2 linked regions of the Homo sapiens genome follow. The protein of the gene in region 2 interacts with the protein of the main gene of each other region in a pairwise test. Each region holds a gene or a part of one and is shown on either strand. Other genes may lie near its edges.

Region 1 (3,830 bases), on a different chromosome or scaffold from region 2:
ATTCTTTTGAACTTCCTGCCCTGCCTCATCTTTTTGAAGTACTTGTGAATGATGGAAATTGGCACGTAGGGCCTGGTTCCTAGTGTTCATTGATACAGGTCCCACGGACTTCAAAGGGTGCTTTGAGTCAGCGCAACAGTGCAGAAACGGTGCCCACGGAGAGGAGTACAACCCTACATTTTCTCTGCAGGTGTTGAGTCACGGCTATAGCTACCCGTGCATACCAATCCGACTCAGGTCTGTGAGACTATAGAATTCTGCATGCTGCCAGCTATTGGAGGTCAGCGCGGCAATCATCTGTCCCAGGGTTTATCTGCCCAGAAGGGGTGGGGAGTGGCAGCCATGTGCCCCCGAAGAGAGGGACAGGTTGGGGTGTTCTCCATGGGAAGGAGGCTTGGGCACAGGGTTATCATTTGCCTTGGGACATATATTCCCTCTGTCGATTATTTATGGTAACGGAGAGACCTGCTCTCTTGGCTAATTGAAACCCGTAGATAATCCCCAGGCCTTATGTTAGCTGATGGGTGAAACTTCTTTCTCTACTCAGCCCTGGTCTAAGTACTGACCTGAATTGAATTTCACGCTTTCTGATAGGAGGTGCCACTGGGTGGTACGATGACCAGCAGGAAAGAGCTAGAAACACAGGGACTGAATAGTCCCCGAGGAGGGGGATGCCTCTGTGAATTCGAGACAGCTGTTCCCTCTCCTCCATCACCAGCACCAGCCCAGTGCTACAGTGTTTTACGGTTTTTTTCAGGGTGCCCCTCCCGTGCACATTCTTGTTAGATGCCTGCAGCAGCCCTGGTGGAGGGGGTAACAGCCAGCTTGCTGGTGTTCTTGCCTGCCTTGATTACGTAGAAGGGTGCCCTGAGTAGATCTTCTCTCTGACATTCTCTATGAGTTTGCTAGGATGGTTCTAACAAATTACCACACACTGTGTGGCTTCAACAACAGAAATTTATTCTGTCACAGTTCTGGAGGCTAGGATCCAAAACCAAGGTGTTGGCAGGGCCATGCTCCCTCTGCAGCCACAGGGAGAATCCTTCCTTGCCTCTTACTAGCTTCCGGTGGTGGCCAGCACTCTTTGGCATTTTCTGGCTTATGACTGCAGCGCTCTGTCTCTGCGTCTGTCTTCACACAGTGTTCCTCCCTCTGAGTGTCTCTTCTGTCTCTTAATCTTTTCCTATGTCTCTTTATAAGGACACCAGTCATGGGATGTAGGTCTACCCTAATCCAGTGTTGCCTCATTTTAACTCGATGACATCTACAAAGTCCCTATTTTCAAAGAAGATCATATCCACAGGTACCAACGGGACTTGAAGGTATCTTTTGGGGGAGCATAGTTCAAGCTCCAGCACCTTTTTAGACTGTCAGTATTGGGTTGTGGCAAGCGGATCTTGGGAAGGAGATGAATGTGCTTTTAGGGATTACTCTCAGAACTGACCTCTGCAAGGGAAGGGGCAAAGCAGCACTGGGCAGAGGGAGAAGCTGGGCTCCAATACCGCTCTCAGCCAAAGCCCCTGCCCATGCCGTGGTGAGTGCTGGAGCTGAGCTGGCCCTTCAGAGCTGACCAACTTGGGTTGAGAGGACTGGGATTTATATTTCCGCATCGGCCAGTCCTTGATGGGGGCTGCCCAGGCAAGGGGCATGGCCTCGTACGGGACAGTTGCTGAGGGCGGTTCCTGGGGAGAGCTCACAGCTGATAGCCTGCAGCTGAGGCAGTCAGTTCTTCAGCACTGACGGGGAATCTGGGGGTGCAGCCCAGCATTTGCTGTTTACTGAAAGAGACAGGGTCAGAGTCCAGGGCTTTTCATCTGAGTCCATACCATATGGACCGTAGACAACGTGGGCATCTTTTCCATGCGCATTTTGGATATGAGTGGTCATCATTTCCATGTGTTGGTATCAAGTCCTCTCATCTCGTTACCTTGAAATATACAAAGTATGGCCAGGCGTGGTGGCTCACGCGTGTAATCCCAGCACTTTGGGAGGCCGAGGGAGGCAGATCACCTGAGGTCAGGAGTTTGAGACCAGCCTGGCCAACATGGTGAAACCCTGTCTCTACTAAAAATACAAAAAAATTAGCCAAGTGTGTGTTCCTGTAATCCCAGCTACTCGGGAGGCTGAGGCAGGAGAGTCGCTTGAACCAAGGAGGTGGAGGTTGCAGTGAGCCGAGATTGTGCCACTGCACTCCAGCCTGGGTAACAAGAGCAAAAACTCCATAACAACAGCAGCAGCAACAACAACAACAACAACAACAAAGAAATATACAAATTATTGCTGCTAAATATAGTCCCCGTAGCAAACATTAGCATTTAGTCCTTCTATCTATGTATGTTTGTACCCATGAACCAGCTTCTCTTCAGCCTGCCCTACCTTGCTGCTCGACTGTGGTCTCTCTCCCTGCAATGAGGGAGCAGCCGGCGTGGCATCTCATTAGCAGATTCTATGTGCCACACGCTGGGGGATTTTCTGGCCTCACATTTCTCTTAGGTTAGAATCATCAGGGCTCTGTTGTGTTTCTCAGTACTTACAAGATTGAAAGCTCACTTTATATGTATGCTCTATGGGTTTTTTCCTGAGAACTCTGGGGCAACTGAGTGTTGGGCCAAGTTGTGGGCCAGCATGCCTACTTCAGAGACGGTGGCACTTTCCTGGGAAGAGACCCCCCCTCCCCCATCACTCGTGAGTGGTGGGAAAAGTTGTTGAAGGAGTTGTGGGAATTTGGATTTTTGATGAGTAGAGTAACAGTTTGGGACATTCTCATGGACAAAAAAAACTACTCAGGGTAGAGCCATCTGTTAACATCCTCTTAGCACTCTTACGGTGGCCACTGTGCCCTAGCTATGCAACTTCTAATCACTGGGTTCTTTTTGGTTTTTAATCATCTTTGTGTTTTCAAGATGCATTTGGTTAAGTTTTGGAATTGGTAATACAGACACATGGTCTGAAATTCAAAGGTTCTGAGAGGGTTTGCAGTGAGAGGTAACTGCTTCTTATCTGGGCTCTTCAGTTCCTGGATCTTCTCGTGAGAGGTCACTCCTCCTTCTAGTCCTTGTGTATCCCTCCAGAGATACCCTATATGCATAGAGACCCACATACATATTTGTAAATGCGTAGTTAGGGGCAGATTTTTCTTCTTTATTGATACATAATATTTTACATATTTATGGGGTACATGTGAGTGTTCCATGCATGGAGTGTGTAATGATCAAGCCAGAGTATCGGCGTGTCCATCACCTAAGTATTCATTTCCACGGGTTGGTATTATATCAAGTCCTCTGTTCTAGTTACCTTGAAATATACAAAGTATTGCTACTAAGTATAGTCACCCTAACAGACATTAGAATTTAGTTCTTCTATCTATGTATGTTTGTACCCATGAACCAGCTTCTCTTCATCCATCCCTCCCACCCACCAGGGCAGATGTATTTTTAAACTGTACATGCTGTTCATTATCTTGCTTTTTCACTTAGCAATATGTCTTGAGCATTCTTCCCCATGACTACTACAGAATTGCCTCACTCTTTATGTTAATTAGTTATTGCATAGTAGTCATTGTGTGGAAGTATCATGTTGACTTAACCATCCCTTGTTGATGGACATTTAGGGAGTACATAATTTTTTTTTTTTTGTTATTCTCAAACCATACTTCAGTAAATATCCATGACCATTTGTCACTTTGTAAATGTGACCCCTCAGTGTATCTGAGGGGTAAATTCCTAGTCTTAGGCCAAAAGGTATGTCTATTTTAACTGTTGATAAGTATTGCCAAATTGCCTGCCATAGAGGTTGGCAATTTATAATCACATTGATAACCCTTATAATTT
Region 2 (2,496 bases):
CTCTGATAAAGCCTACTCTTATACATTTATTTAGTGGTTTTATGCCACAGTGAGAATGAAATTAAAATGCTGCCTTTCTCAAAGATTTTAATTTTTCACCTTTTGGTTGTAGTGTAGACCAGAGTACTTTGTTTCCCCTTAAGGAGATGGGAGAGATGATGATGATGATGGTGATGATAGTGATGATTTGAGGGTTCCTGAAAGCATCCATAAACATGTAGACATTGGTATATTTTGCCTATTGTCTAAGTCCTGTTTTTGGTTTGGTGGACTCCCTGTGAATTTTGCTACTGAAAATCTCCTTATTTTCTAAAATCTCGTTTAAATTGAGATCCTCGCTTTATATTAATATACTATTTTCCCTAGAACAACTCTGTACAAAAGAAATATAGTATGTGTTTTTTATATATATATATATATATATCATTAAAATTTCTAGTAACCACATAAAAATGAAAAAGAAGCAGATAAAATTAATTTTAGAAACACATTTTATTTAACCCAAGATATTTGAAATATTATTTCAATACTAATCAGTATAAAAATTTTTAATGGACTATTTTACATTCTTTTTCTTTTTCAAATTAAGTTTTCAAAATCTTTTGTGTGTTTTACACTTATAGTACATCTTAATGCAAACTAGCCGGGTGTGGTGGGTCATGCCTGTAACTCCAGCACTTTGGGAGGCTGAGGCAGGAGGATTGCTTGAGGCCAGGAGTTCAAGACCAGCCTGGACAACATAGCGAGACCCTGTTTCAATTAAAATAATTTGTTTTAAGAAATGCAAACTAGCTATATTTCTAGTACTCAAGAATCACATATGGCTACTGTATTAGACAACACATGTCTGAAAGCAAGACACATAGTATTTAAGCCTAGATTCATTATTCAAAGATATGAAATTTTAAAATGCATAGCATTACTTTTTAAAAATAGCAGAATGGCTATTAAATATCTGTTCTCCCAACCCTCACTTTCTTTATTTCCAACACAACTTTAAAAAATAGATCAGTTTCTAAAATTACATGCTAGCTTAACTTGCTTTTCATCAGGGGAAGTGAAAATGCTAAATGAGAAGTACATTTAGGTTGCTAAAATCAGTATGCTTTCTTTCTTTCTTTTTTTTCCCAAAAAATGAAGAAATAAGGACTCTGAGGCTATTTAGGTATTTGCAGAACCTGGGTAAAATTTTACTTAAGAAGTAGTGTGGGCAGGGCGCGGTGTCTCACGACTATAGTCCCACTACTTTGGGAGGCTTGGCCTACATGGTGAAACCCCATCTCTACTAAAAATACAAAAACAAAAACAAAAACAAAAATAAATAGTATGCACGTGAGAGAACTAAGGGGATCATTGATTTAAGAACTGCAGTACTGCTTTTACACAAACATAACTGACTGATGAGATATACTATCCTTCCCAGCTCCTTGTCCGCAAGACTGGATCTGGCATGGAGAAAACTGTTACCTATTTTCCTCGGGCTCATTTAACTGGGAAAAGAGCCAAGAGAAGTGCTTGTCTTTGGATGCCAAGTTGCTGAAAATTAATAGCACAGCTGATCTGGTGAGTGTTCATGGATATTTGTTGGGGTGGAGTATTGGTTGATAGGGAAATTAATCTGGTTTAAACTGTCACTGGAGGAATTCTTGTTTGAGAGCCAAAATGTCTGTTTTTTTAGCTTAGTCTGATCACCAATTTTGTGTATGACCTTGGACGGACAGGCTCTGTAGTATCTCTAGCCTTCAGTAAGTGTTTCCGTAAAACAGTCAAGGGGATGTCAAAGATACCTTTTGGTTCTTTAGTTTTGTGGATCCAACACTAACTGACTTTCAGATTCTAAAACCACCATGTGGATTCCACAAACTCAGAAACATTACTCCCCACAGGACTTCATCCAGCAAGCAATTTCCTATTCCAGTTTTCCATTCTGGATGGGGCTGTCTCGGAGGAACCCCAGCTACCCATGGCTCTGGGAGGACGGTTCTCCTTTGATGCCCCACTTGTAAGTTTCCCATTCTTTTTGATGCCTCTCTCGTCAGTTTCCTATTCTTTGCTGAACCTGCTAGTGAGGTCACTGCCTGCATCCCACCAATGTCCTCTTCTTGCCAGAGAGAAGCTTGGGGGAATTTCTCAAAGTCTCCTTCCTTACCTCTTTCACAAAAAGATTTACTCATTAACCATTCAGACATTTTCTTGAGTTTTCCTTCCCACATTTATTACTGATTGGAGGCTTTAAGACAAAAAGTTTCAAAAGCTAAGTTTCTGAAACAAGGTGGCAGTAAACCTAAGTTTTTTTGTTGGTTTGTTTTGTTTTTTCCTACCTGCAGATTTAGAGTCCGAGGCGCTGTCTCCCAGACATACCCTTCAGGTACCTGTGCATATATACAACGAGGAGCTGTTTATGCGGAAAACTGCATTTTAGCTGCCTTCAGTATATGTCAGAAGAAGGCAAACCTAAGAGCACAGTGAATTTGAAGGCTCTGGAAGAAAAGAAAA

Evidence for each region.
Region 1: the proteins of OLR1 (region 2) and HUNK interact in a two-hybrid assay, tested with the Homo sapiens proteins (one large-scale study listed by BioGRID and IntAct).

What each region holds. Positions count from the first base shown.
Region 1 is NC_000021.9:31,879,399-31,883,228, forward strand, and holds part of HUNK (hormonally up-regulated neu tumor-associated kinase), read left to right. Parts: intron 1-3,830.
Region 2 is NC_000012.12:10,159,853-10,162,348, reverse strand, and holds part of OLR1 (oxidized low-density lipoprotein receptor 1), read left to right. Parts: intron 1-1,423; coding exon 1,424-1,563; intron 1,564-1,833; coding exon of another isoform or gene 1,834-1,886; coding exon 1,887-2,002; intron 2,003-2,327; coding exon 2,328-2,469; 3' UTR 2,470-2,496. UniProt on the Homo sapiens protein: Receptor that mediates the recognition, internalization and degradation of oxidatively modified low density lipoprotein (oxLDL) by vascular endothelial cells.